Linked DNA regions of Homo sapiens. The protein of the gene in region 3 purifies or fractionates together with the protein of the main gene of each other region. This does not show direct contact. Each region holds a gene or a part of one and is shown on either strand. Other genes may lie near its edges. The genes, in order: SAPCD2, CILK1 and DEPDC1.

The links.
Region 1: the proteins of DEPDC1 (region 3) and SAPCD2 purify together in Homo sapiens (affinity purification with mass spectrometry; 2 studies listed by BioGRID and IntAct, with this or other methods). This does not show direct contact.
Region 2: the proteins of DEPDC1 (region 3) and CILK1 purify together in Homo sapiens (affinity purification with mass spectrometry; 2 studies listed by BioGRID and IntAct, with this or other methods). This does not show direct contact.

What each region holds. Positions count from the first base shown.
Region 1 is NC_000009.12:137,066,195-137,076,465, forward strand, and holds the start of SAPCD2 (suppressor APC domain-containing protein 2), read right to left. Parts: upstream 4,364-10,271; 5' UTR 4,267-4,363; coding exon 3,696-4,266; intron 3,600-3,695; coding exon of another isoform or gene 3,510-3,599; intron 181-3,509; coding exon 68-180; intron 1-67. UniProt on the Homo sapiens protein: Plays a role in planar mitotic spindle orientation in retinal progenitor cells (RPCs) and promotes the production of symmetric terminal divisions. Negatively regulates the mitotic apical cortex localization of GPSM2.
Region 2 is NC_000006.12:53,015,249-53,025,584, forward strand, and holds part of CILK1 (serine/threonine-protein kinase ICK), read right to left. Parts: intron 4,112-10,336; coding exon 3,979-4,111; intron 3,254-3,978; coding exon 3,082-3,253; intron 1,003-3,081; coding exon 835-1,002; intron 1-834.
Region 3 is NC_000001.11:68,478,405-68,488,740, forward strand, and holds part of DEPDC1 (DEP domain-containing protein 1A), read right to left. Parts: intron 10,101-10,336; coding exon 9,970-10,100; intron 8,581-9,969; coding exon 8,533-8,580; intron 5,687-8,532; coding exon 5,546-5,686; intron 5,301-5,545; exon of another isoform or gene 4,494-5,300; coding exon 3,642-4,493; intron 3,209-3,641; coding exon 3,036-3,208; intron 917-3,035; coding exon 740-916; exon of another isoform or gene 725-739; intron 1-724. UniProt on the Homo sapiens protein: May be involved in transcriptional regulation as a transcriptional corepressor.

The DNA.
Region 1 (10,271 bases), on a different chromosome or scaffold from region 3:
GCTCCCATCCCGGCCTCCAGCCTCCAGGCAAGATGGAGAGCCCCACAGAGCCCCAGTCCCTGCTCACCAGGCCGCAGTCCACGCCGCTGGCGATGGTGTGCCTCCGACGTTCCCCTCGGGCACGGGGAGCCCGCCGGGCATCCCCTGAGTCCGCCTCCAGGGCCCTGCACGCCACTGCACCTGTTATGGAGAGGCATGGGCCTGGCTCACCTCCAGACCTGCCTGGCCAGGCTCTGCTGAGGTGCAGCGGCCTCCACATCTCAGCCCACCCTCGAGGTCTCGGGCACCAGCCTGGCATGGCCCACGTGTAGCCTCTGTGCCAGGCTGGAGTTTGGTCCCTCTCCCCTTTCCAGCTCCTCACACTGGCTTGGGGAGGGCTGTGCCGCCAAGCCCGCATGTTTGCTCAAACACACACCCTGCCCCCTCATCGGTCCGTGAGCTCTCTGGGGCCAGAGGCCTTATCCAGCTCTCTTCTGCACACCCAGTGCCCAGAACATGGCAGGCACACCCTGGGTCTCCAAGGCAGCTGGGTAAGGGAGGAGTGGGCGGGGGGGTTCTGGTCCTGACTACGCCTCTCCCATCTGCACGGGGTCCTGCAAGGCAGCAGGAGATGTGGGTGTGAATGACGGAAACCTAACTTTTCCCAGGATGGTGACTCTGATAGAAAGTTAGTCCCGCATGGCCGGGCACAGTGGCTCACGCCTGTAATCCCAGCACTTTTGGGGACCAAGGCGGGTGGATCGCTTGAGCTCAGGAGTTTGAGACCAGCCTGGGCAACATGGCAAAACCCCATTTCTTCCTTTTTTTCTTGAGACGTTGTTTTGTTCCTGTTGCCCAGGCTGGAGTGCAATGGTATGATCTTGGCTCACTGCAACCTCCGCCTCCCAGGTTCAAGTGATTCTCCGGTCTCAGCCTCCCGAGTAGCTGGGATTACAGACACCCACTACCATGCCCAGCTACTTTTTGTATTTTTTAGTAGAGATGAGGTTTCACCATGTTGACCAGGCTGGTCCTGAACTCCTGACCTCAGGTGATCCACCCACCTCAGCCTCCCAAAGTGCTGGAATTACAGGCGTGAGCCACTGTGCCCGGCCGGCAATACCCCATTTCTATTAGAAACACAAAAATTAGCCTGGTGCAGTGGCATGCACCTGTGGTCCCGGCTACTCAGGAGCCTGAGGCAGGAGGATTGCTTGAGCCTGGGAGGCAGAGGTTCCACTGAGCCCAGATTGCGCCACTGCACTCCAGGCTGGGCAACACAGCAAAACTTTGTCTCAAAAAAAAAAAAGATCCCTTGCCGGGCACGGTGGCTCACACCTGTAATCCCAGCACTTTGGGAAGCTGGGGCGGGGGGGGATCAGTTGAGGTCAGGAGTTCAAGACCAGCCTAGCCAACATGGTGAAACCCTGTCTCTACTAAAAATACAAAAATTAGCAGGGCGTGGTGGCATGCACCTGTAATCCCAGCTACTCGGGAGGCTGAAGCAGGAGGATCGCTTGAACCCAGGAGGCGGAGGTTGCAGTGAGCTGAGATTCGCGCCACTGCACTCCAGCCTGGGCGACAGAGCAAGACTCCATCTCAAAAAAAAAAAAAAAAAAAAAAAAAAAAGTCCCGCGTGTGTGATACGCCAGGCGGTGCACCCAACTGACAAGTCAGGCACGTCCTGGTGCTCACAGACCCCTGCTCTGAAGTTTGTTTGAGGGCTCCCCCTGGGGGCAGCCAAGAGTATCGCGTTGGTGCCACTCCGGCCCAGCTTCCTGGTGAGGGAGTAGGTGCACCTCCCCAGGCTACAGAAGTGGGTACAGGTGTGGAGGAAGGCATCCTCCTTCGGCCTCCAGCTGTAGCCCCAGCACCAGGCACATCCTTAGAGGCCATGCCCCTGGCACCTGGCCACAGGAGTCAGGGAGTGATGCAAGAATTGGGCCCAGGTAGGCACGGCAGAGAGCCTGGCTCCAGGCAGGCCCGAATTCGCACTCCAGCCTGCGGTGCTGAGCGGCTGGCAGCTCTGGGGCAAGACAGTGGAAGAGCACACAGCCCTTCAGGAGGTGGGAGCAGAGAGGGTACAGACAGAGGGAGGCCATAGAGGAAGTCCCAGGACACCTGGGCCCGGTCTGTACAGTTGAGTCCATAGAGCAGCTCCTGGGTCCCCAGATAGCAGCGTGCTGGGTGATGAGCTAGATGGCCTCTAGGTGGGGGTGGTGGCTCTGCCCCTCCAGGGCCCTGAGCCAGCAGGCCACACCTCCAGGGCCACAGCCAGCCTGGAGCAAACACGCAGTCCCAGGTGGGAACAAGGAAAGAGGCCCTGAACATCTGGGCTGGGGGCTTGGAAGGCTGTGTGTGTTGGCAGGCTTTCTGGGAGTTGGGGTGACCTCAGAGCTCCAGATTTGACACCCCAAAAGCCAGCTGTGTCAATCAAATATGTCACGCCATTTGTCTGGCCCTCCGTTTGCCTGTGAGAGGGTGACAGCTACAGCCCTAGCCATGTGGCCTTCAGGGAGATGTGGTACGTGAGCCAGTGCCGCATGGGGCATCAGAGCAGAGCAGGGGTGGACCACAGGCTTAGGCCTCCAAACCCCAGGCCCGGCCACAGCGTGCAATCCCATGGCTGATTTCAAACTGCATGGCCACATGGATGACGCTGACCCTGCATTTGGAGCCAGATACCCTCTGAAGGTTCCCTCACCATAGAACTAGGGGTCCCCCAGCCTGGTGTGGCTGCTGGATCAGATCACCAGGGAGGCCAGGGCCGCCGTGGCTCCAAACACCAGCTGTAGGGCTGGAGAATATGGCTGAGGTGGGGGAGCAGTACAGGGAGGGTGGCAGAGCAGCAGGCAGCACAGGGACCGGCAGGAGCCACCGGTGGGCAGGCCTCCCCTGGCAGAACGGGTGCACAGGCCGAATGGGCTGTGGGGCCTGGGGCCCCTCTGGGAGCTTGGCCCCCCAACCCCAGCCATAATACAGGTCCTGTTCCCAAGGCAGGCACTGGGTTGGGGGAGACAGGGGACCATTCAGCAATCTCCCATCACTGCCAACTGGACCGGAAGGCAGGAGAGGAGTGTGCCAGCCATCCCCAGGGACTACGGCCTATGTCCCTCCATGGCATCTGCCATAGTACAGCCCCACTGGGGTGCAGGAGATCCACCCACGCCCCTGCCCATCTTGGCAACAGGGCCAGGTCCTCTTGGGCCACCAGCAGCAGCCCCCGCCTGCCTAGGCCTCAGTGGGGTCAGTGGGCCCAGCCCCCCTGGCTAAGCTGTCACACTGAGAAGGGGGACCCTTTCTTTGAGAAGGAAGCACTTCTGCCTGAGCAGCCACAGACAGGAGGCTGAGGGCCCAGGTGTCCCCAGGTGCGGAAAGGGTATTGGAGATGGAGAGCCCAAGCTCAGGCTTGGTACAGGTTGGGCTCCCGGTGGGTTTTCTGAGTCACCTGCCACCCCCCGGCCCTGGTGGCCTTATGCTGTGGCAGGAGAGGGTCTGGCTTGCCTCCCTAAGCAAGCCCCTGGGCTCACCGCGACAAGCATGAAGCCCTTTCCCTCCAGACCCGCCGAGGCGCCCTCCAGGATCCGGAGTCCACGAAGAGCCGCTCCCCGGTCCCGTCCCTTGTGGGAAATGCACGGGCAGCAGCTGTGGGACTGCGGTTTCTGGCCCGGGCCCGGGAGAGCTACGAGGGTGCCCGGGGGCCGTCCGGAACTCACCTGCGTCCGCGCTGGAGCTCGGTTCCAGCGCCGCGCTCTGGGACCGCTCGGGCTCCGCGGGGCAGGGCGCCGCCTCAGCCGGGGCGCACAGCTGCTCCGGGCTGCGGGCGGCGGCGCTGGGACCGGCCAGAGGGGCGCGCACGCCCAGGGGCAGGGGCTTCCTCTCCAGGACCGTCCGCGGCTCGTCGGCCGGAGCGAACACCAGGCGCTGCGGCGGCGGCGGCGGCTGATCCCCGGGCCGGGCCGGGGCGCGCGTGGGGTCCCGGGGGCCGCCGTCGGCGCTCAGCAGGGAGGTGCGCAGGCCGGCCACGAAGCGCTCGAAGGTCAGGTAGCCGCTGGCCGGGGCCACCTGGCGCAAGCCCTCCAGCACCCCGCGGGGCAGCTCCCGCGCGTCGGTGCCCTGCCAGCGGGACTCGATCTCGCGCAGGTGCACGCAGCCGCGCCGCCGGTCGTCCAGGATGTCGAACAGGGTGCGCAGGCTCTGCAGGAAGGCGCGCGGCAGCCCCTCCGTGCTGGGCGCGGGTGCGGGGGGAGGCACGCGGCCCCGCTCGGCCATGGCGGCCCCGGCCATGGGCGCCCGGGATCGGTCCCCTCGTCCACCCGCGTGCGTCCCAGCGCGGCCCCACGGAGGGGCCGGCCCGGCGAGCTCAGCCCACGGCGACAATAGCGACTACTTTTGAATGGGGCCCTCCTCGCGGCGTCAGCCCTCATTAACATGCGCCGCGGCCATTGGCCGAGCCCGTCCCATCTGCTCTCTGATAGGCTGAGAGGAGGTTTGATTTTTTTTTTTTTTTTCTTGCCGAGTGGCCCTGGGAGGCGCGCGGAGGCCCTGGGCAGGCGGAACCGGATCCCCCAGCTCCTGCTCCACTCTGGCCTCGCAGACCTTCCTTTCTGCCCCGCCCCAGCCCCACCAAACCTCCTGCCGCGGCCAGGCGCTTTCTCGGATCCAGCTGTGGCTGGCTGCCCCGGCCACCTCTCCAAGGGGCGGGGCCTGGCACCCTACAAAAAAACCTGTCTCCAGGTAGCCTCGTGGGGTAAGAATGGGGGGGGGCACCCCCTCCAAAGATCCCACTTTTCCCCTCTAGTTCCCTGGCCGCAAGCACAGGTGACCCTGCGGCCCCCTTCTCTTCCACCAGGAGGGCCCCAAGAGGATCGTAGGCTCCAGCCAGCTGGGCGCTTCCCACTCACAGAGGCCTTTCTGTCCCCACTGCTGCTGGCTCCTCCTCTGGTCCCTCGGGACAGTCTGGCCTGGCCTGCCTGCTGCAGAACAAAGCCACTTTCTCCTGTGTCCCCAGATCCCCATCTAGTGACCAGCTCCCTCTGCCTCTTGCTCTCCTCTCCTCCTTCCCCTGGCTGGACACCTCCTCCAGCTGCTCTCCTGGCTCCCGCAGCCCTGTCCCCCTGCCTCTGCTGTGTTTCCAGCTGGGATCTGGTCACTCTGTCTTCATTTGGTCTGTCCACATGGGAGGTGAGACCAGGCCTTAGCCTGGGTTCTAGCCCTGGGAGCCCATCTCAGGGCTGGCCAGTAGTACCCTCTAGGTTCCAGGGAGGTGTTCAGGGTGCAAACACCCTCCCCAGACAGGCCCCCAATCCGAGACTTGCCTTGGCCCTCTGCGGGTCTCCCACCCTCCCTCCTGGGCAGGCCTCAGCTGGCATACCTACCTGGGTCTCTGTCCTCAGGCCTGAGCCACTGGTGCCTGTGTCTCAAGCTGTAGAGGCATCTTCCCAGGCCAGGGAGTATCCTGGGTCCACTTCTCTTCTGGGTCACTCACTCTAAGTGGGACTCCTTCATCGTAGGGAATGCTGGAAGGACATAAGAAGCTCTGAGCCTGGAGCAGCCCATCAGAGCTTGGTCCTGTAAGCCAGCTTCCCCTTTAATGGCTGGTCTGCTCAAAAACCCAGCACGAGGCCGAGGCGGGAGGATCACTTGAGCTGGGGAGTTCAAGACCAGCCTGGGCAACATAAGGCAACCCTATTTCTACAAAAAGTTTAAAAAATTAGCCAGGCGTGGTGGTGCATGCCTGTGGTCCCAGGTATTTGGGAGGCTGAGGTGGGAGGATCCCTTGAACCCAAGAGGTTGAGGCTGCAGTGAGCTGTGATTGAGCCACTGCTCTCCATCCTGGGTGACAGAGCGAGATCTTGTCTCAAAAACAAAACAAAACAAAACAAACCAGCACAACACGCAAGCCCCCGCCCCCCCATCCCCACACCTACCCTGCTTCCAGCACACCCCTCACCGCCAGTGCCAGGCCTGGGGTCCCTGCACTCCCTCACTTCCAGGCCCCTGTGCCTGGTGGCTCTTCTACCAGGAAGGCCCTTCCCCTCTGCTCCAGGCTGACCGCACTACATCCTTCAGAACTCTGCTCTGGCCCCAGTCCCCTTCCCCCTGAAGCCTAGTTAGATAAAACACAGGGGACAGCTTTCTCCTGGCCCAGGGGGCCCTGGCTATTTGCAAGCAGGACAGGGCTCCTTCTAGGCCTGGCATTGGCCTGGCCCACAGTGGGTGCTCTGTGAATGGCACTGGGGAGCCGTATCCAGTGAAATCATATGGGAAACACCATCCTTGAGTGGGCACCAAGCCAGGCTGAGGCCTAAGGGATGGGGAAGGGCTGGGAACAGCTCAGTGGTATGGCAGGGGAGGCCAGTGTGGATGTGGAGTCGGTGGCCAGCAGTGAGCAAGGCTGCTGCAGCTCAGGACAGCGTGGCCAGCAGTGTCCAGGCCAGGCCAGCCATGGCCCCGCATGGAACTGAACCCACCGTGCAGATGAAACAAGGGCTTTTCATACCATCCAGAGCCTTGGGGGAGGCGGCCCCAGCTGGCCCTTGGTCTGTGGGCTTCTCTGTGGCCCCTGGCTGGGTATTGGAGGAAGGTATGAAAAAGACTGGAGGCCGGGCACGGTGGCTCACGCCTGTAATCCCAGCACTTTGGGAGGCCAAGGCGGGCGGATCACCTGAGGTCAGGAGTTCGAGACCAGCCTGACCAACATGGAGAAATCCCGTCTCTACTAAAAATACGAAATTAGCCGGGCATGGTGGCCCATGCCTGTAATCCCAGCTACTCGGGAGGCTGAGGCAGGAGAATAGCTTGAACCCCGGAGGTGGAGGTTGCGGTGAGCCAAGATCGCGCCATTGCACTCTAGCCTGGTCAAGAAGAGCAAAACTCCATCTCAAAAAAAAAAAAAAAAAAAGGCTGGGCACGGTGGCTCATGCCTGTAATCCCAGCACTTTGGGAGGCCAAGGCGGGAGGATCACGAGGTCTGGAGATCGAGACCATCCTGGCTAACATGGTGAAACCCCGTCTCTACTAAAAACACACACACACACAAAAAATGAGCCGGGCGTGGTGGCGGGCGTCTGTAGTCCCATCTATTCGGGAGGCTGAGGCAGGAGAATGGCGTGAATCCAGGAGGCGGAGCTTGCAGTGAGCCGAGATGGCACCACTGCACTCCAGCCTGGGCGACAGAGCGAGACTCCGTCTCAAAAAAAAAAAAAAAGACTGGAGGCTGTGCCTGGCTTTGGGCGTGGAGCTAAGATGTGGTCCTGTGTCCTTCCTGTCCTGAGCTCTGACCACTTCCTCCTTCACTCCACTTTCCGGCTGGCCTGATAGTTTCCCAATCCTTCAGGTTTTAGTGCTGTGTCACCCCTGGGGGTCCCATGCTGTCCCTGTACTTTTGGAGGCCCCATCTTAGCTGTAATTGTGTTCTCACTGTGTAAGCCTGGACCACTCTGGGCAGAGGTGGCAGGAAGACCGGCCCCTCTGTCCCCTGATGTATCCCCAGCAGTGGGCACCAAGTGAAGAACTGGCAACAGCCACCCAGCCCCTGAGCCTCCCAGGGCTCCCCGTCTGCACTCCTGGCCTCTGAGCCTTAGGGCCTTGCTCCCCTGGGCCTCTTGTGAAGACAACTGCCTGGCCACAAGGTGGTCCAGGAGGTTGCTGCCCACCTCAGCCTTGCCAGCACTCCCACCCATCCGTAGGCTCTGTCGGTCTGGGCAGGGTCGCTCCTCCCCTTCTGGTGCCGCAAGTGCCTCTGGCTGTACAAACCTTGATTTTCCAAATCTTCTATTACAGCCCAACCCACACCTTGAGGTGGGATTTGGAATCACCCTGACCTACAGGGCCAACAGTTCATGTCCTGACACCTGCCTCCAAGAGACATGTGCCTCCTCTGCTGCCCAGCCCTGCAGGGGTGATAAGGGTTCCCATGGACTCTGGCCTGGGGCGGGAAGCCTGCTCTGCTCACCGGATTCCGCGAGCCTCCCCTCCAACTCCAACGTTCACCTAAACGATGTTCAACCACCACAAACCACTGGAGCAGAACAGGCCATTCATTAATTCATTCATGCAGCAGGTACTCCCTGAACATTTGCTGTTGCCCAGTCACGGTGTGGGCTGGGGTTCAACACTCGTTTGTTCAATCAACAAACATTGATTGAGTGCCTACTGTGTGCTGCATTTACCTGAGGTGATGGGGGCAGACCACTGGCCTAAACAATGCCCTGCCTGGGCTGGGCACGGTGGCTCATGCCTGTAATCCCAACACTTTGGGAGGCCGAGGCGGGCAAATCATGGGGTCAGGAGTTCAAGACCAGCCTGGCCAACCATCGCTACTAAAAATACAAAAAATTAGCTGTGTGTGGTGGCGGGCGCCTGTAATCCCAGCTACTCAGGAGGCTGAGGCAGGAGAATCACTTGAACCCGGGAGGCGGAGGTTACAGTGAGCCGAGATTGCACCACTGCACTCCAGCCTGGGCGACAGAATGAGACACGGTCTCAAAACAAAAAACAAAACAAAACAAAAACAGCAACTCCCCGCCTTTGTGGGGTTCGCTTCTCACAGGGGAGTCAGGTAGCCAAGAATGCAGAAAGGCAGCCTGGCACGGAGGATGGGAAGGTGCTCACCGAGTGGGCGTGGCCTGGGGAGCTGAGGCCTGACCAAATGCGTCCCCAGCCACACGTTTCTCTGGGGACAAGCGGTCCAGGAGGGAGGAACAGGAAGTGCAGAGACCCTGAGGCAGGCCCGAAAAGCAACTCCATGCAGGTCCAGAAGAGTGCATGTGGGCCTTGCCCCAGGGGTGAAGCCCCCTCCCAAACTCAGTGAGGGCATGTGTGTGGAGGTGGGGGCAGAACCCAACTGCAAGGAAACACAACTGCCTGAGGGGTCCACGGGGCAGCATGAGGGAGATGTTAGTTTTCATTTTGGGTCCTAGATCACTGTCAGAGGTGTGTGAACCAGAGCAACTCCATCTTGAATGGGAGCTGGGTAAAATAAGGCTGGGGCCTACTGAGCTGCATTTCTGGATGGTTAAAGGATTCCAAGTCAGGATGACACAGGAGGTCGGCACAAGATACAGGTCACAAAGACCTTGCTGATAAAAGAGGTTCCGATAAAGAAGCCGGCCAAAACCCACCAAAACCAAGATGGCAACGACAGTGACCTCTGGTTGTCCTTGCCGCTACACTCCCACCAGCACCATGACGGTTTACAGATGCCACTGCAACGTCAGGAAGTTCCCCTATATGGTCTACAAAGGGGAGGGATGAATTATCCACTCCTTGTTTAGCATGTCATCCAAAAAAACATAACAATGGGCAACCAGCAGCCCTCAGGGCTGCTCTGTCTGTAGAGAAACCATTCTTTATTCCTTTACTTTCCTGATAACTTGCTTTTGCTTTACTGTATGGGCTTGCCCTGAATTCTTTCTTGCGCAAGATCCAAGAACCCTCTCTTGAGGTCTGGAACCTCTTTCCTGTAACAGCATGATTTGTTTTTCTTTTTCGGTTTGTTTGTTTGTTTTTTGAGACAGAGCTTCGCCCTTGTTGCCCAGGCTGGAGTGCAATGGCGCGATCTTGGCTCATGGCAACCTCCGCCTCCCAGGTTCAAGCGATTCTCCTGCCTCAGCCTCTGGAGTAGCTGGGATTATAAGCATGCAACACCATGCTTATATATTTATATTTATATTTAATATTTGTATCTATTTTTAGTAGAGACAGGGTTTCTCCATGTTAGTCAGGCTGGTCTCAAACCCCAGACCTCAGGTGATCCGCCCGCCTTGGCCTCCCAAAGTGCTGGGATTACAGAAGTGAGCCACTGCGCCCGGTTTTTTTTTTTTTTTTTTTTTTGAGACAGAGTTTCGCTCTGTCACCCAGGCTGGAGTGCAGTGGTGCGATCTTGGCTCACTGTAACCTCCGCCTCCCGGGTTCAAGTGATTCTCGTGCCTCATCCTCCCAAGTAGCTGGGACTACAGGTACACGCCACCACACCTGGCTGATTTTTGTATTTTTAGTGGAGACGGGGTTTCACCATGTTGCCCAAGCTGGTCTTGAACTCCTGGGCTCAAGCGATCATCCTGTCTCGGTATCCCAAGGTGTTAGGATTACAGGCATGAGCCACTGCACCTGGCCACCATTTGAATTCTTTTATGCAGTCACATATATTACTTTTAGACTTACTATATAGTTTCTAGGAGAAAGTTTTGTGCCCAACTGGCAGAAGCTACCCTTTCATATTTTTCACAAGCAAACTATTTTATTTTTATTTTTATTGAGAAGTCTCACTCTGTCTCCCAGGCTGGAGT
Region 2 (10,336 bases), on a different chromosome or scaffold from region 3:
GAAGGGGCCAGATGTAACTACCACAAAAGGAGGCTTGCAAGATGCCTGTGAGTGATAAGAGCCCCCAGCGTTACCATACCTCTTTTGGGTATATTTCATTATTTAAGTCTAAGTGGCCCATGGGAGGATGGATTGGGAAAGGAGCTATGAAACCAGTGGACCTGACTTCATACTTCCGGTCAGTTGGTTGAATTGTAGTTAGTTGCACTATTTGAACTAATTAATGGATGAGTGATTAGAGCAAATTGCTTAAACTTTCCAAGATTGAGTTTTCTCACTCACAGAATTGAAAACAATAATGCCTGTCTCATGGAGTCTTTATTGGATTAAAAATCATATAAAATATATTCAAGCATTTGCACACTGTAAAGTGCTATGAAATACTAAGTGCAGTTACTATCCTAGGTCTATCTCATCTGTCAATCTCTTCAGGTTATGAGTCAGTTGGACTTTTACATAATATGAAGTTGCCTTTCAACAACCAGTACCGGCTTATAAACAAACTACTATATAATTGTAACTCATAGAGAATAGATTTGAAAACATTCTCCAAAGACAGATAAATATATGTTTATTTCCATTTCCATATAAATGGTGATATATCATGTGAATTACATGCCAATTTTCAAAGCAACTATATTGTTTACATTGTAACTACTTTATACCCAGTAAGTTTCAAACTATTTTAAGTTCTCATACCTTATATAGTACACCATTAGTGGTATTCTGTACTATTTCTCACCCATAATACTAAATACTAAATATTTCCTGTGCAATTCATAGAAATTATTCAGAGTTAGATATGAACGTTATAACAAGAAAATGGAAGAAAACCTGACTAGCTGTTGGTCGTTTCTTGGGATCCCACTGAAGCATGTCTCTCAGGAGCTGGACTGCTTCACTGCTAGCATTGGGAATCAAGGTCTTTAAGTTATTGGGTACACACTGTGGCCAACGGAAGTTCATTGCACTTGAAAGTTGATAGCCTTCAGGCCAGTCAGTCTGAAAGAAGGAAAAGATAGAAAATCTTGCTCAGCCAATTGCTGTGATATAAGTTTGTATTCTGGCATGTGTGCCCCAAATGGAAAGGCAACCATGTCATTACCCACCCACATTCATTAACCACCCACATTCACTACTGTGGCACTGTATGGAATGAGACATAGATTTAGATTAATAGAGAGACCACCAAGACCATGAAATCTGGGGGAATAGTGGAAAAGACACTGGATTTGCCAACTTAATTATCTTTACATAAGAGATTCTCTTGAGATTTTGGGATTGAAACAAATTAATATTTCCCCAACTGTGTTCCATGAGACAGAGGTTCTGAAAACTGCCAATGAGATATTCTTTTGGGGAAAACAAAATAAAACAAAACATTTTGTTCCTGGACAAATAAATTTGTGAAACTCTACCTACAGTATCTTCAACTTGGTGATTGAAAGTATACATGTGGAGAAAACCAGCAGTAAAGAAAGGTGTTTCACCCAGTCTCAAGCTTTCCACTTTTTCATGCATCATTTCTATGGGACACTAAATGCTGGAGGGAATGATGGAAAATGCTAAAGAAATGGTCTTTAAGGTTCCTTCTAGTTCTAACACTCTACTATTTTATAACATACAGCCTAAGGTAATTGTTCCTCCACTCCTTTTTAAAGCCAAGTGGCAATACATATAGCTTTTATCGTTCATTCACTTGACAGTTCTGGAATGCCTACTATATGCTTAGTGTTGTTGGAGATCCAAAAATGATCCAATATAAATCCTGCGCTTAAGAGTATTACTGTTCTTAAAAGAGAAAAGAGCATTTATTTAAAAATGGTATAATGCAGAGTAAAAACTGACAAAAGCTGCAAGAGATGTGCAGGTACAGATATGCAGAGGAGAAAGATTCCAGCATTGGACTCAGGAAACTTTCTTGAAGAGGTGGCATTAATAATTCATTCAAATGATTAAAAAATTTTTTTGAGGATCTAGTTTGCACCAGCAATGGTGCTGGGACCTGGGAAAATAAACATACAGCAAATCCTTGTCCTGAGTGAGCTTATGGTCTAGGAAACAACTATGTACGCAAATAATAATATTAATAACATAGGACACAGCTGAAGATGGGGAGGAGATTAGAGAAACAGTGAGGAGGGGGATTACTGACGGCCATGTGACAGATATCACTCAGGCAGAGGGTGTTATGTGCAGAGCACAGAAGCAGGGAAATTTCAGGGCATGCAGCTGTTAGGTGTATAGGTATGAAGTGAGCGATAGGAATAGGAGTTATGAGGCTGGGCAATGGGGAGTCAACCAATACTTTTATGAGGGGAAGTCAGTACCAGAGCTGTTCTTTAGGAAGCTGAATCTGGCCACAGACTGAACAAGAAGCCAGAGTGAAAATACTTCAAGGCAGAAAGATGGGGAAGATGACATTAGACACAGGGGGGTGACTGTGGTCCAGTCTGTAATGGCAGCAGTGGACTTGAAGGAACAAGAGCCATGTGGCAATATTCAACAGGATTTACCCACCAACCGCTTAGATGAAGGGAAAGGGGAGCAAGAGAAAGACAGAAGGTAAAGCTGAAATTCAGCCTCAAGGTGGGGGCTCTGGGATTATGATCAGACCACAAATGAAAATGGAGAATGAAAGAAGGAAGCTAGTAGGGTGTTAAACAAAAGGCAATGATGAGTTTGAGGTGATGGTGAGGGAGTCAGGAGAAAATCCCATAGAGCGTTGTAAACATGTGAGTGTAGTAATAATGGAGGGAGGCAGCGGCTAAGGATTACATTCAGGAGACTTCTGAACAGGCGTAGGAGTTGTAGCAATGAGAACTGAGAAGTTCTGCAAGGGAGGTGAGATGATACAGAGAGGAAGGCAGAAGGAGCCATGACAGATGTCATACTTAAGAACAGGAGGAGGAAGAGAAGCCGACCGTATCTGAGAACGTGGGCAGTGGAGAATGACTGAGGTCAAGAGAAAGAGCCTAGAATGGGCAGGTGCTCAATCATGCCAGTGCTGAACAGGGCTGAGCGGAGGAAGCATGGGAAGCTGTTGGCTTTGGCCCACTGGCCTTTGTTTTGTATCATTACCTTTTTTGGTGTCCCCAGCACTTGGCAAATTTTGAATATTGTGTCAATTTCACTGGCTCCAGGGAAGAGTGGCCTGAGGGTGTAAACTTCTGCCATGATGCAGCCCACCGCCCAGACGTCAATGGGGGAGCTGTAGTTGGTAGACCTCAGGAGTACTTCTGGAGCCCTGTACCTGGAGGAACAAAGGTTAACTGCTAGCTATTGCTTCCACCACTCAGACATTAAATTAAATAACAATCAGTTCTCAGTGAGGGGGTGTATATGTTCCTATTTTCTCTCTAGTTCACTGTGGTGTAATGGAATTGTGAGAACTTGGCAACTGCCGTGGGCTGCTGTTGACAAGTAGTGCTTCTCTAGTTCACAATATTTTCTACTGAGCATTTCTCTACAGGAGACTTCTCTATGGCATCTTTGAGAAACACAGAGAAAGTAAGAATTAGGAAAAAAGAGAGAAAAGAGAAAGTGGAAGGGAAAAACTAAGAGAGAAAGGAAGAGGGAGGAAAAAACCTACAACTTGTGTGTAGACTACTTGGTCATGGCAAACTGCTTAAATCAAATTCCCAGTGTCTCAAAGTTTTCACAATAGCAATTAGATGGTTCTCAGACAGGTCTTTGCAGAATATTTTACATAATTCTTTTGTTAAGCTGTCCTCAGGAAGGCCTATATATAAAATTTTATTTACATTATAGAAAAGCATAATAGGTTTTCTTTTAACATGATTTAGAACACAAGATTTTTAACCTTGTACATTACCAACATATCTATAAATATATGTTTCAGACTGCACTGTTTCTCTTAGTGAAAAGTTAACATTTGTGACTTTAATATTATCCTTAGCATAATGATATCTTTTTAAAGAAGTGCAATTAAATAATTTTGAGAAAAATGGTATTCACCATCTGGTAGATACATAATCTGTATATGGAGGTTTTGATCGTATTTCTCGGGCCAAACCAAAGTCTGCAATTTTCACAAGTTCTGGTCCCATGCAGAGGAGGTTCTCAGGCTTTAAGTCTCGATGAAAGAAGCCTATAGAGACAGTAGAGGAGAAGAAATCCAAATGCAAGTTTGCTTCGTATTATTCTTTGCAATTGTATTGCTCTCTGCAAAATAGTTATAATTTAAAAAGTAGTCTGGCATGGCACCAAAGGCTTTATGCATTCATCCCACAGATAATGTAGAGTCCTTCGAACTTCTCATAGGATTACTACATTCATTTCCCTTTGCAAATCATTCAAAGGTGTTCTTCATAATTTTTTTTAACTAGAGAGAAAATTTCTTTTAAAATATCAAACTGGATTATAGGCTGAGATAACTTTGCAAAAATAAACTGTCACTCAAGGGAAAAATATCACTGACGGCATCTCATTCTATTGCCTAGGTTGGAGTGCAGTGGCACAATCATAGTTCGCTGCAGTCTGGGCTCAAGTGATCCTCCTGTCTCAGCCTTCCAAGTAGCTGGGACTACTGGCACAAACCATGGTGCCTGGCTAGTTTTTTTGTTTTTTTTTTTTTTGTTTTTGTAAAGATAGGGTCTTGCTCTGTTGCCCAGGCTTGTCTTGAACTCTTGGCTTCAAGCTATCCTCCTGCCTCAGCCTCCCAAAGTATTGGGATTATAAGTGTGAGCCACCATGCCCGGCCCAGATAACTGTCTGATGGGAATTGAGAGTTTATACCACAGCAGAAACACAATTATAATTTTTGTTTAAGAAATAATTTATGAATATGACCTACTCATATCTGAGATTGTGGTGTATGTTGCAACATATGTTTAAATGTTAAGTACTTATTACTTTGCCTAGTGAGGAAGTACAATGGTACATTTGCAGCTCACATGAAAGGCAAAGATAACTCATTACGTAGGAAGCCTGTCTCAGCTATAGCAGAGCTCTGGAGGTACAGGCAGGAGATAGTCAACATGGCAATCTTCCAAGCTCACTCAAACGCCCAGTGAATTGCAATATATGTCTCTGAAAACCCCAAACCTCCCACTTCCTGAGAGTATCACCAACCTAGACATCATTTAATGTGGCTCCAAATCTCAATGGGACACCAATACTGGAAATACAACTCAGCTGCTGCTGATGCTATTATTTGTTACACATTATCATTGCTATCATTACAGGCTGAGTATTCCCTACTCTGAAAATTCAAAATCTGAGATGCTCCAAAACCTGAAACTTTTTGAGCACCAACCTGACACATAAAGAAATTGCTTACTGCAGCATTTTGGATTTCGGATTTTTGGGTTAGGGATGTTCAACTGGTAAAATATAATGTAAATATTCCAAAATCTGAAAAAATCCAAATTCAGAAACACTGCTGGACCCAAGCATTTCAAGTAAGAGATACTCAATCTGTATCAATGTTGTGAAAGCTGGATTCTAACTAGCACATTATGGGAGAAATTAATAGCCATCACTGAAGATCTACACGATTCCTTGACAACCTGTATGTTGACAACGCTCAAGTCTACATTTCTAATGTGCCTTCTCTACCCTTCTGAAGACATAAATCTCTATTTGGACAGCAACTGGATGTCACTATCATCCCTATGTTAACTTATCCAAAACCACTTTTGTCCTCTCCCAAATCATCTCCCCTTCCTAACCTTTGGATAAGATTTCTAGGTACCTTGCAGTTATGTTGGATCCATCCTTACCCAGTTATGAGATTGTGTCGTATTTTCTATCAAAACATCTCATATCAGCTAGGCGCGGTGGCTCACGCCTGTAATCCCAACACTTTGGGAGGCCGAGGCGGGCGGATCACTTGAAGGTCAGGAGTTCGAGACCAGCCTGGCCAATATGGTGAAACACCATCTCTACTAAAAATATTTTAAAAATTAGCCGGGCGTGGTGGCACATGCCTGTAATTCCAGCTACTCGGGAGGCTGAGGTGGGAGAATTGCTTGAACCTGCGAGGTGGAGGTTGCAGTGAGCTGAGATCACACCACTGCACTCCAGCCCAGGCAACAAAGCAAGACTTCGTTTTGGAGCGGCGCGGGGGGGTTGGGGGGGTAAATCTCATATCTGTCTCTTTCTACTTTCTCACTGCCTATGCCTGCATTGCCACTTTCTTGCAGACCTTCCTTGCTCCAGCTTCTCTCCTATAATCCTGACCACTTAAACACTATCTTTCCCTTGTCACTCTCTCATTCACCCACAAAAACCATCCATGACTCCTTTTTATATTAAACAGGGCTGAACTCCTTTCACTCTACCTAAAGAGAGAAACTTATTTTCCAACACTTATCAATACATGTAAAGTGTGCTCCAATCAGGTGCAACTCCTCATTCTTTGTAAGTTCACTGTACAGTCATGCACTGCATAACGAAGTTTCAATTAATGATGGACTGCATATATGATGGTGGTCTTATTATAATGAAGCTGAAAAATCCTTATCTAGTATTCACTATACTATACTTTTAATCATTATTTTAGAATTGTACTCCTTCTACTTACTAAAAAAAAAAAAAAAGTTAACTGTAAAACAGCCTGAGGCAGGTCCTTCAGGAGGTACCTAGAAGGCTTTGTTATCATGGGAGATGACAGCTCCCTGCGTATTATTGCACCTCAAAACCTTCCAGTGGGACAAGATGTGGAGGTGGAAGGCAATGATACTCATGATCCTAACCCTGTGTAGGCCTAGGCTAATGTGTGTATTTGTGTCTTAGTTTTTAGCAAAAAAGTTAAAAAAGTAATAATAATAATTTAAGAACAGTAAAAGCTTATAGAATAGGGATATAAAGAAAATATTTTTGTATAGCCATATGTGTTAAGCCAAATGTTATTATAAAAGAGTCAAAAAGTTAAAAAAAGTATAAGTTTATGAAATAAAAAGTTTCAGCAAGCTAAGATTAATTATTGAAGAAAGAAATTTTAAAAATTTAGTGTATCCTTGGTGTACAGTGTTTATAAAGTGTCCTAGACCTTCATACTCACTCACTGATTCACCCAGAGCCATTTCCTGCAAGCTCCATTCACAGTAAGTGCCCTATACAGGTGTACCATTTTTAAAAAAATTTTTTATACTATATTTTTACTGTACCTTTTCTATGTTTAGATACACAAATACTTACCATTGTGTTACAATTGCCTATAGTATTCAGTACAGTAACATGCTGTAGAGGCTTACAGTCTAGGAACAACAGGCTATACCATATAGTCCAGCTATGTAATAGGCTATACCATCTAGGTGTGTCTAAGTAAGTGTACTCTATGATGTTTGCACAACAACAAAATTGTCTAACAACACATTTCTCAGAACATATCCAGTCATCAAGTGATATGTAACTGTACTTATTTCCATTAATAATGTGCCCTTTACTCCTTTTTGTCTACATCAATCCCAACTTTTGCCATCCTCCAACACCTGTTTTGAGTTTCGCTTCTTCCATTATGCCATTCTAACATGGTAGCCTTCATTCATTCATTCATTCATTCTACCAACACATTTTCACTGAGCATCTGCTCCATGCCAGGCAACAGATTAGGTTCTAAGGATTCAGAAACAATGCAATGGACATGACTCTTGCCCTCATGGACATAATAGGCCCTCCCCTCTAACTCCAGTTGAGCTCTATCAACTTCAGGTATGTTAACCATTTTTTTTTTTTTTGAGACGGAGTCTTGCTCTGTTGCCCAGGCTAGAGTGCAGTGGCACAATCTCAGCTCACTGCCAGCTCTGCCTCCTGGGTTCACGCCATTCTCCTGCCTCAGCCTCCTGAGTAGCTAGGACTACAGGCGCCTGCCACCACACCCTGCTAATTTTTTGTATTTTTAGTAGAGGCGGGGTTTCACCATATTAGCCAGGGTGGTCTCGATCCCCTGACCTCATGATCCACCCACCTCAGCCTCCCAAAGTGCTGGGATTACAGGTGTAAGCCACCGCACCTGGCTAACCATTTTTTATGAATTAGACAGAAGCACTTTAAGGGCAGAGGCCACATTTATATTTCTTATGAATGCCTGGCACAGTGGCAGGAGCACTGTGGTCTCATAATATACTCTTGCTGATTGAACAAAGGACTTTCGTCTGTAGGGAACATTAAACAGCTTAATGTTAACACATCTACCTGAGCCAAGCACCAGGGTCAACTAGAGAGCAAACCAGAGCTGTGAGGAGGATGGGAGGGAGGAAACCCATGAGACAGCACTGAGAACTGAGAGAGAACAATGACCCAGTAGTGCAGGGGACAATGAGGGCTCAGAGCTGGTTGTCCTTGTGACAGAGGGAGTTGTATTAGTTGAATGAATGAATGAAGGCAGGAACTCTAGTAGGACTAAATCTATTAGTCAAGGTTGTTTTCCAAAGACTGTCACTGCCCTAGAGCAAAGGGAGGGTGATTGTGATGTGGTTATATGTGAAAATACACTAATTGCCATTATCATGGAAAGGAACAATATTTTAGTAATAGGACAATCCTCTCTGTTCATCATTCTAAAGACAACAGTACTTAATACTGGGTCAAGTTCCAAATGGATAGTATTATACTATGGCATAATGGCGGATCTGTAGGAGAAGTAGCTGGCATAGATGGACAAAGTGAATGTAATTACAGAGCCTAGAACCCAGTAAATACAGAAGGGGATGAAGGTATAGAAGTGATCAGATACATTCAAGAGGGCATAAGTGAGAGGAGGAAGTACTTCCTTCCCACCACGGGGTTGCTTTTATTTTCCACAATCCAAGGCATTGATGAGATCAAAAAAGTTTGACATGGGTTAAACCAGAGACAGGCACAGCAAGTTTGCTATTTTATAGCACATGCATACACGGGTTTGTATGTATATTGTGAAATATTTATGAATATATATTCCACTGCTCATTCTTTATCCTGCCATTGTACTGGTACACACCTAATGGCCTTCCTCATACAATTCCTTGAAATATCCTAGTGAACTTAATAGTAAAATAAACCAAAATTATACATAAGAACCAAACTTGAGGTTGTCAACTCAACAAATGCAAAGAGCATTCAGTATCAGTCAAGAATGGCCTTTAAAATGAATGAAAAGATTTCTGATATGGACACATTTAGATGCTTATGATCAGCCTAATTAAAGATTTATTCATGCCCACCACAGTGGGTGACATCTCTAAGACTTAGCATAACTGAGTCATTGTGTTTGGACCCTCTGTTCTTCAGAGCACCCTCCAGCTTGCAGAAGGCCTGATTGTGTGTTTCCATTTTGGAACTGGCTTAAGAATGTGTAAGGATACAAGCAGTGATTACAGTGATCTTTGGTCAACGCACCTGTGACCTCTGAAAATAGATGAATTGTGAGACCATGGTTTGTCTTCCTAAAAACTCAGAGTGTTCAAAACATTCCAGTGAAAAAAAGGAATGGCAAGCATCATTTTCTTACTCCACAGATGGGAAAACTGAATCATGGTGGCAGGGGGCGGTAGATGAATTACTCCCAATTCCACCAAGAAATGTGTCATAGCTATTATAGTGTCCAGCTCTACTCTCCCTTTCAATCCATATAGCTAAATCTTTTTTTTTTTTTTTTGTAAGACAGAGTCTTGCTGGTCGCCCAGGCTGGAGTGAAGTGGCACCATCTTAGCTCAATGCAACCTCCACCTCCCGGGTTCAAGCAATTCTCATGCCTCAGGCTCCCAAGTAGCTGGGATTACAGGCCTGCACCACCATGCCCGGCTAATTTTTGTATTTTTAGTAGAGACAGGATTTTGCCATGCTGGTCAAGCTGGTCTCCAACTCCTGGCCTCAAGTGATTCACCCGTCTCAGCCTCCCAAAGTGCTAGGATTACAGGCGTGAGCCACTGTGCCCGGCCCATATAGCTAAATCTTGATTTGTTGTTTTGATCCTCTCAAGTCTAGATTAATGCTATTTCCCCTCATAGACTCCCTTTTTCTCATTTAGTTGGGGTAATTATTATTTCCAAACTTATGTGGCAGTTCCGTTATAATGGGTCCTTTGTTCTGCAGCCCCTACCCACTATGGCAACTCCCTCTGGCATCATCTAGAACACCCACCACAACAAACTTGTGTCTTCTCTCTGCTCAGTTCTTCCTATCATCAATTCATACTCAGATGCAAGTATCGTGCTCACACTCCAGACCTCGTTCTTTGTTTCCACTGTAGTCATGCTCCTGTAAACACTGGCCACTCCTCCCATCAGCCAAGCTTTATCCTCTCCCTCACTGCTAACTCCTCTTTAATCATATACTTCCACAGAGGACATGCACACTAATGAAATGAGGGGAAGGAAGATTCCGATTCCCC
Region 3 (10,336 bases):
TCAGCATATTTACTGAAATGAAATATTTTTAGTTTTCATGTATTTTTTTTTTTTTTGAGGCCTAGGGACATAGGCAGAGCTTCTAACATCTTCTGATAAGAGAAAGAAATTCTAGGAGATAGTTATAATTATAAGCCAGGGCAATATTAGAATGGTATGTATGGGAAAAACATAAACATGTGTTGGGCAGCCAAAGACAGAATACAGTAGATGTCTGTTATTTTGGCTGCTCAGTATTCCTTCTCTCCTTCTTTTAATAGTTCCTTCCCATTTTACCCCTCTACCTTCACCTTTTGTGAAGAATAAATTCTCCTTTGTGTAGAACCAATCAGAGTAAGGCCCTATCTCCATCCTACTCACTCTTAACAACCTAAACGATGCATATTTAACCTCAACTATGCTAAGAGTCTACATCCAGAGCTTTTAAATTGGAGACGGAGGAATGGCTCTTTTTCCTTTGAATTGCAAATGTAAGGCTCTAACTCATGAACTTCAACTAGCCACATTCCTCATCATGTGAAGGAGCCATTGTCAAACACAGGATCAACACAGAAATAAGAGATGGAGGGATGGAAAGAGTCATATAGCTATTTGAGTCCCAGATTCTGTCTACATTCCTGACTTTTAGAGGTTGTTTATGGGAGCTGATAAAGTCTCCCTTTTTGATTAAGCTATTTTGAGATGAGTTTGCCACTTGCAACTGACTATTGCAGAGAATTTTAAGACTCACAATACTTACATGTCCCTTTTTTAAGTAGTCAAGATGTTTTTCCACTGCAGTCTGTAAGTAAGAGGGTACTTGAAGAATTTCCTGATGATGATCCATTAAGAAAGAAACTAATCTTCCAGCAAGAAGCTCATCAAGATCCACTTCTTCAGCACAGCATAACACACATCGAGAAAAGGTATGTATCATCTAGAAAAATATTAAAAGATGTGAATTTAAAAAGCTAAGGTTGCATACAAACTAGAATATCGGTAATTTCCAGGTAGCATTATGTGAAGTATTGGGAAAAAGTGGTAAGCAGCCCTCAGTTTAAAAATGAGGACAACGATTTATACAGTTAGAAATGTAAGAATTTGATTATACATAAATCCTTTTTAAAGTTTTTCCATGGCTGAGCATGGTGGTTCATGCCTGTAATCTAAGCACTTTGGGAGGCTGAGGTGAGAGGCTCACTTGAGGCAAGGAGTTCGAAGCCAGCCTAGGCAACATAGTGAAACCCTATACCTATGAAGAAATAAAAAACTAGCCAGGCATGATGGTGCATGACTGTGGTTCCAGCTACTTGGGAGAGTGAGGCAGAAGGATTTTTTGAGCCCAGGAATTCCAGGGTGCAGTGAGCTATGATCACACCACTGTACTCTAGCCTGGGAAACAGAGCGTGATCCTGTGTAACCAGAAAAAAAAAAAAAAAGTATATCCTTAATGTAATTCCCAAGAATTATAAAAGGCTTTGGTTTTTCTACAATTTTGTCACAATTTTATCAGTAAACACCATAGGTTCTATTAATACCACATATATATGTTGCTTAAGCTTAAAGATTGTCAGAGAACAATAACTAATTACATTAAATGAATCCCACAGAAAAACACAAACCAGGAGAATGTGTAACATATAGAACACTTCTATTCATAAGTGGTTGCAAAGCTGATGCCATTTAGCTTTTGAAATGCTGGAAAATAGTTTTTAAAAATGTTTATTCTGTCAGTCTTTAGACAGCAATTTAAAACACACATTTTTCAATTCCATCTTATGGGATCTTCAAATCCTGGGATAAAATTGATTACTCTCACTTATTACTCTCGTTACTTTCACTTATATCTATGCAACCCTCTAACTGTACCACACACACACACACACACACACACACACACCCCTCATTCTAAAATACTTAGAAATCAGAATTGTTTTAAATATTTCACACATAGTAGATGATCAGAATATTTATAGAATTGATACATTTTTAGTTTTATTCCTACACATCACTCGGGGTTTCCTGTCTCCTTCCATGGCTCAGACCTCAGCCTTTTGCTCTTTCTTCACACTCTTAGCCTTGTAGAGCTCATCTACTCTCATAGCTTCAAGTACTATCCCTATGTAAATGACCAAATCAATTTGCATTCTCCCCTGATCTTTCTTCACCTGGCTCATATTTCCAACATTCTGTTGGACAAATTTCAATTTCTCTTGGAGGTCCTATGACTTCAAATCTTAAAAGTGCAAAACCAAAATTATCACCTTCCCAGTCATGTCTCTGAAAACATCTTCCTCTATAAACTTCCTAGCTTTTTAATAGTGCTATAATTACTCAAGAATAATTCTTCTTCTTTATATTAGGTCTGTCATTGTTAAAGAACTATCTTTAATAACGCGTGGAAGAAAGCATAACTCCGGATTCCTTGCTATAAGAACCTCTTGTAAATTGAAGTTGCATTTTGAGGAAGTGGTGACTTAAAAAAAAAGAAAGAGATTAAAGATACTATTTCAAGAGTTCATTTCCAATCAATTGTCTGCATATAAATGCCCTTATCCTCATTTTCACAAGGAGCCTAAGGCTGTTTGGCAATAGTGCTTCCCAACTTCTTGTCCACGATGACCTACTTTTCCATTACTATATTCTCTGAAACACTGACTTACTGTATTAAGTTCCATTAGTTCTCTGCGTCCACAGTTATAGTCTCCTTAGGCTTTCAACAGTACCTACATTTCTTCTTCCTTATCCACCAAACAGAATTGGCACAAGGCAACATAACGTGGTCTGACTGGTCAATCACTATGAAGTGATTCAGGATGAATGAGCAGGCAAAGTCCTTAGCCAGGATTAACATCAGCATGTGAAAGTATAACAGAGTGTGCACAAAAGATTAATACACCAAAATTCTGCTGCTAGGAAAGGTTAAAGAGCCTTTCCAACCTAAGAATCTAGCACTTTAAGACTAAGACATCACTTGAGTAGTACTTTTACGTAGTTTGGTTTTGTTATTTTGGTTTATGAATCAGACTTATTCTTTCTATAAGAAATCAACTTACCAGTGACCTCGTACCCATTGCATCATGAAGTTTGGGCATATCAACATTTTGACTCATTCGGGAAATCATACGCATTAAAAGTTGAAGCTTTCTACGATTTGGTGGGGGAAGTAACAAACAACATAACTGTAGAGCATCGATGGCAACCCTCTCTAAATGAGGTTGCAGCAAGCCTAGAATACAAAAATACCCCCCCAAAAATCATCAATGACACTAGTTGCTTTCATACTACCAGTATATACAGCTATATAAAGAAGGTAAAATAATATCTTAGTATTTCATCTTTTAACTATTTCTAGAAATTACGTTCCTCTAAAGCATGGTAAGATTCTCATTATTTTCTTTACAACTTATTTCTAAGTATTAAAATTCTTCACTTATTACAAATAAAGTGACTCAGAATAAATGAAATTGCAAAAAAGAAAATAAGTTCCTTAGGTAAACAGAATAAATCTTGGTTATGTCACAGACAAAAGTCTTTTTAAATAATTCCTCTTGGAGGAAAAAAAATTAAGCAACTTCAAGGAAGAAAAGCCAGGTAAGCAAAACACAGAGTTAGTAAACACTCAAAGTTAATATTGCATGCATTGAAAGCAACAGCCTTACTTTGTGTGCCAGTCAACATAGAAGAAGCTGGAAGTAAAGAATTTTCTGAAAGTTCTATTGTACTTTTGCAGAGTCTTTTATTGATTGTGGCACTAGACTCTCCGAGTTCACTTTCCATAGCTGTTTGCACACTTGTGCTGCCTTGTCCAACATTTGGTTTCATGATAATTTCAGCCACTGGTGTATTGATATAACTATTCCTTCTTGTACTACTTCTTAAAAGCAAACTCTGAGACCTACAAAGCTGTTTTGACTTGCATTTCCCATTACACAACTCCTCTTGGTCTTGAACAGTCAAAGTAGAGGTTCTCTTAAAACCAGCACTGAATGGCTTTTGAATATTTTCCTCTGAATGAAGATTCAACAGGAATTCCTGTTTGGGCTTAGACTCTAAAAACAGTTTATTATTTTGTCCTTCTATGTTCGGAAAAGATTGATGAAAGACACTGGATGCCTCTTTACTTGAATTCCCTGGCACATCTACAATTCCTTCCAAAGAACAGCACCTTGGTTTGCTGTTAGAGGATAGATCATGCATATTACTTAACCCTATTAAATTATGACAACTTCCTCCCATTATGTCATTAGCACTCACTCTTCTGTTTCTTAAATTAACTAGCTGCATTTTCTTAGCACATCTTTCTTGAAATCCTGGATTGCTTATCTGTAGTCTCTCAGTAGAATCTGATTCTTCTTTGTTTTTTTCTCTATGAAGCAGACTGAGAAGAAGGCACTCAGTTGATTTGAAGGAATTCAAATTGTTTAAGTGAAGGAATTTTGAAGACTGTGGATCATCTTGAATTTTATGTATCCCACTGGATCTATCTGAAACTGTGATGTAGCCACAAACAACTACCAGGAAATGAAACAAAAATTAAGATGCAACTGTATGACAGTGGACAAAAATAAAACAAAAACAATAGTAAAGTTAAAAAATAAAGCATTACTATAGTATATATTGTTAGTATAGTATACACAGTAGTTGCTTAATTCAGAAGCCACTTAAATAGGACACATGCAACATTCGGTTACAAACGTGCAAGACAGATGAGTGGTTTTCCCATTTGTAATATAACTTTAAAAAATTATTTCAACAGCCTAATTAAATGGATTGAGCCAGAATACATTTAAAAAATCTGTTCTCAGTCTGCAAGTACTAGAAACCTCATAAATATAAGATAATTGTGGTATAATAAAATACATATATTTGATCTTTGTCCTTGGTACCTGGTATGGAGCTCCTAAAATCCTTGAAATTTCCTGAATGATAGAAGTCTTTAGTTACTCATAACAAGCCTATTTCAGCGTATCTGAGTTCATGCTAAGGTAACTGAGGGCCGGCCATGGTTTGAATTTTCATCACCAACTACAACCTTGTGGGAGGAGAAAGGGGCTAGAGATTGAGTTCAATTGACAACAGTGACCAATGATTTGGTCAGTCATGCCTTGGTAATTAAACTTCAATTAAAACTCTAAAACATGCAGGCTGAGGGAGTTTTCTAGGTTAGTGAACACATGGATGTGCTGGGATCACGGCATGACCAGAAAGGGTAGAGAAACTCTGTGCCACCCCCACCCTCATACCGTGCTCTGTGTAACTCTTCCATTTGGCTATTCTTGAGGTCTAGCTTTTATAATAAACTAATAGTCATAGTTAAAGTGCTTTTCTGAGTTCTGTGAATCATTGTAGTGAATTATTGAGTCTGGTAGGGGGTTGAGGGAAGTCCCGAATTGGTAGTTGGCTGGGCGGAAGTATGAGTAACCTCGGAACCTTATTTCACTGAATTTTAAAATAATTTGTAGGCTGCCACCTTTATATTTACCTATGGTTTTAGATCTTCTAAATTATAAGAAAGTTGAAAACTTTAACAAAATGAACTAAAATCAGTAAAATCTATACATACCCAAAATGTTTACAAATAATTCGTAATATTCAAAAGTAAGTAGAGGTTCAGGGAGATCTAGAAAATAATCTGCGATTGTTCTGAATACATCTCGTTCAAATCCAACATAAGTTGGATTATTCATATCATTGCTTCTTGGCCCTAAGAAGTAGAAGGCAAGAGAAAAAGGTAAAGTATATTTTAATTTAAATACAATTTTTAAACATAAAAAGTATAAAATCTGTATTTCATGAAGGAGCTAGGTTTAACAACAAATTCTGCCACAGTTCAAAAATTTAAAGGGTGTATTTCATTCTTCCTCATTATCTTTCCACTGGAAGCAGTCAATTGCTAGTATTTTGTTTAACATTTGTATACCTGAAAAATCATACATAAAGCAAAATTTTAATATCATTTTAAAAGCATTAGGGAAGCTTAGTTTAATAAGATTTTATTGTAATTCATTTTGTAAAGGAAAGAATATTTGGACAACACAAATAATTCCTTCAAATTGTCTTTTTGTAAATTTACATGTTCATGAATATATTTTGTCTGACATGAAGCATAGCCTTAATGAATTTAAATAATATCTTTACATTGTTGTTTCTTAAGCTTGACACAACTATTGAAATAATCATACCTACTCATTTGTGTTTTCCTCAAAAATAAGATCTGATCTCATTTTATAGATAAGAAAACTGAGGCTGAGAGTACCTTGCCCAAGATGAAAAAGACTCTGGTAGCAAAGTTTGAATTAGAAGTTAGAGCAGTGTAAAATAAGCACAAGGCCCAGGACTTTTAAAGCTACAACAACATTTAAAGTGTGGTTCATAGATTATATCACAGAATCATCCAATGTGCCTATTAAAAATACAAAGTCCTCTATGGAGACCATAATCCATGAAGGCGGGGCCAGAAATTTACTGACCTAGAAATGTTTGCTTCTGGTTCACTGAGTGTTTTCCAAACACTAACCTGAGAATCTTCACTATAGTAATCTTCTGGAGGCATATATATATATATATATTTTTTAAAGATTCCTGACCTACAGAATCTCTGGAGAGTCTCTTTAGTGACTGTGGTATGCATCTAGGTTTTAGAGCCATTATACTATCTTTCAAGTTAAAATGTTTCTCTTCCCAAGTCCAAATAATATTTCTTACTTCTCTGTTTCCAAACTTTTGTATGGACACACAAATGTGAGCACACACTGAAAAAGAATTAAAGAAAACAATTCACACACACACACACACACACACACACTCTTAACAACAGAGCAAAATAGATATTTTTCTAAGGACATAAGAAATAGTATGTGGAATAAAAGATTTGATAATCATTAGAAAGTTCTCTAAGACAGAAAATACATGTTTACAGGAATTAAAAATATTAAAAATATAGAATTTATAGAGAATCTAGGTTTGAGCTCTAGCTCATTTGCACTAAAAGAAGATACTCTAAGCTTTGGCTTTCTCTGTTGGAAAAATTGGGATGGTATACTGATTACTAATTCCTACATCTCACAGAATTACTCTGGGGGATCGAATAACAAGTAAAGTAAGTCTTAACACTGCCTCTGGCTAAATACATTGTTGCTAATTTGGAATCCAGTAAGTTATATAATTGGTATCGTTTAGGTATTACATAGACTGAAACGAGAAGGAAGACAGAATCCCTGAAGACCAGATGTCAGAGAAATCCCTGTCAGTATGCCTATCTGAATTCCTAACCATGAGCAAAGGAATGAAAGAGAGGAATAGCTAACTATACCTGGAAAGTAGAAAGACAAATTCAAGTCTTAAGTTCATAATAAAGATTTTAATCTTAATTTGATAAAATGTTTCTGTAAATATATTTAATTTATTGCTATTTATTCAATGTCATTTTATCATATTGACACCCAGTGGACAACAAAGGAATATAAAGTTACCCTGAACATTAATAAAACCCTATTAGCATTTAGAAAATGCTAATTTTGTATGAACTAGAAAATTATACTTGTAACTATTAAAACATAATTTAGCTTTTGATGATTTAGCTTATATCTTTGTACATTTAAAAAATTAACTTTGAAAGCAATTAGGATTTTGTACTCATACTAGGGTTTTATGTTACAAAAATCAATTATCACTGATCACTACGAAAAGCTTGATCAATTAAATGCTAAAAAAATTTCTGGATTAGTGACTGATAAGGTTTGGATCTGTCCTCACCCAAATCTCATGCCAAATTGGTAATCCCCGGTGTTGGAGGTGGGGCCTGGTGGGAGGTGATTGAATCATGGGGGTGTATTTCCCCTTTGGTGCTGTTCTTGTGATACTGAGTGAGTTATCACAAGATCTGGTTGTTTAAAAGTGCGTACCACCTCTGCACACAACCTTCCTCCTGCTCCAGCCATGTAAGACATGCCTGCTTCCCCTCCACCTTCTGCCATGACTGTAAGTTGTAAGTTTCCTGAGGCCTCCTCAGCCATGTTTCCTATACAACCTGTGGAACCATGAGCCAATTAAACCTCTTTGCTTTATAAATTACCCAGTCTCAAGTATTTCTTTACAGCAGCACGAGAACAAACTAATACAATGACAGATAATCTTTTTTTTTCATAACATAAAGTCACATTAATATATCTAGTATTCTATGCTTCTACACTATAGAAATACCAAGGAGTTCAAGCCATTTGAACTCTGAGCCTCACTGAGGCAATTAGTGTGGATTTCACTTAAAAAATCCTTTGAGATCCTCTAGGCTATGACTTTATAATATATGTGAACTAAACCATAAATAATATGCTTGAATTAAAAAATCGCCACCTTTCTAAACAGAAAAAATTAAGGGCTCCATAATGTAATAAATTCCACTAGACTTTCATTTATAAATAAAGAGAAATGATATACTTTAATTTTATCAGGACTTTATTAAATTTCCTTGGTTCTTGTTAAATACTATCAATATAACACACACACACACACACACACACACACACACACACACACATATATTTAACTTACAATTTGCTAGGCACTTCATGGCAGATAATACCCAGTGAGGGAGGTCATCTACACAAAAAGAAAAATATTACTAAGTAAACCATACATTTTTTATGATAGTATATTTTAAAATATCACACTTACGTGCAATTATATATATGTATATACACATACACATACATGTTACATTTGTATATGTGTGTATTACCAGGATTAAAAAGTATTATATGTTTAATAAGACACAGGATCAAGTCAATATTTTAAAATAGAAAAAGTCTGAAAAAATTATGGATTCTGAGTTTGATTCATATTACACATAACAATTAAATACTGCCAAATTGAGGATTATTTTGAGGGAGTGTTTAGATATAAACTCCACGTTCATTTTTATCTACTACCACTATCTTTTCTTCATCCTTGTTTCTATTCTGCCTATTGCTATGCTATTTGAATATTACTGATTTGGGTGAGACCTAAGATTGAAATGAACTGTATCTCACTATTATGCTGCTTTTATAGTGAAGTTTGCTTAAAATCTTTCGAGTGCCACTAAATAAAATATGTTCCATAGAAATCTAGCATTTTTTTTACACAGGGTTACAAAGAATAGAAATCTTAAATGAGGGAATATACTGTTAACCATATTATTTTAGGTAATGGAAGAAGGGACTGGTCTACAGCCACATACATATGCCACATAGCAAACTCATCAGTTTTAACATTTACCTTTTGCTCCTACAATTAAAAACTCAAAGTTCTTGCCCATAAAAAGAAAACCAAAGTAGCATATGTCAGTTAATTCCACAGACAGAAACTTATCATAAAAACATCAGCTACGATTTTGAGAGATTTATGGATACCTTTCTCATAATCTAAGTTTTCTAATACATCTATCTAGCTTGAATTATTTCCCTGATTTTTGTATCTAAATCTGAAATCAATCAACTATATAAATATATAAAACAAAAAAGCCAGTCCCTTTAGAATCCTCATCTTGAAAGTCTGAGCTTATTTTGTTGTGTTATTACAGTTTTGTATATATGTTTGACTCCTGTTAATTTGTACATAACTACTCATGTAAGCCTCATGAGAGTATGGACCATTTCTATCTTACTTATCATTAATCTTTAGCACAATCTCTGACGTGTTGGAGGCCCTCAACAAAAATGTGCTTAATCAAAACTTTTCTTATATTTGTATACCTTTTGGATGCTTAACTTTGTCATTTTTTTAAATACCATGCATGAATTTATCTTAGCAGACAAAATATTTCTTATACTAGCACGAATAATACTCACTTAAAAATTATTCCACTGTTATTACTAAAGAACTTATGATAGCCCCTCTGATGCTCCATGAAAGTATTCTACTTTCAATATTTGGGTCTCTCTTTACACTACTATAGCTGCAACCTTGTTGGCAAGTTTTTAAAAGTCCAATTATTTTATTAATACCAACCTGATTTGTTTTGTAGTATAACTACTCCACGTTTACTTGTATTGGCCATGTTGTACATTATATATTGGGGAATTACTTGTTTTGGATTTATGACTTCTTCTAGGGATGGCACACCTAAAATGGTTTGCAGGCTAAATAGAAGAAAGAATATTAACTTTTTTTCTTCATAAATAGATTATACATATGAATATGACTAGTAAACAAAGCCATCAGAATATTTTATTTTTTTAACCAAATTTCTAAGACTTATATTTAGTATCCCCTTTCAAATACATTTATCTCAATAATCTTAAAAGGATTCCAATATATATCCCAAACTATGGCCATAATGTTGATTCAAAGAAAAGGTGAATCATACCGAAACATT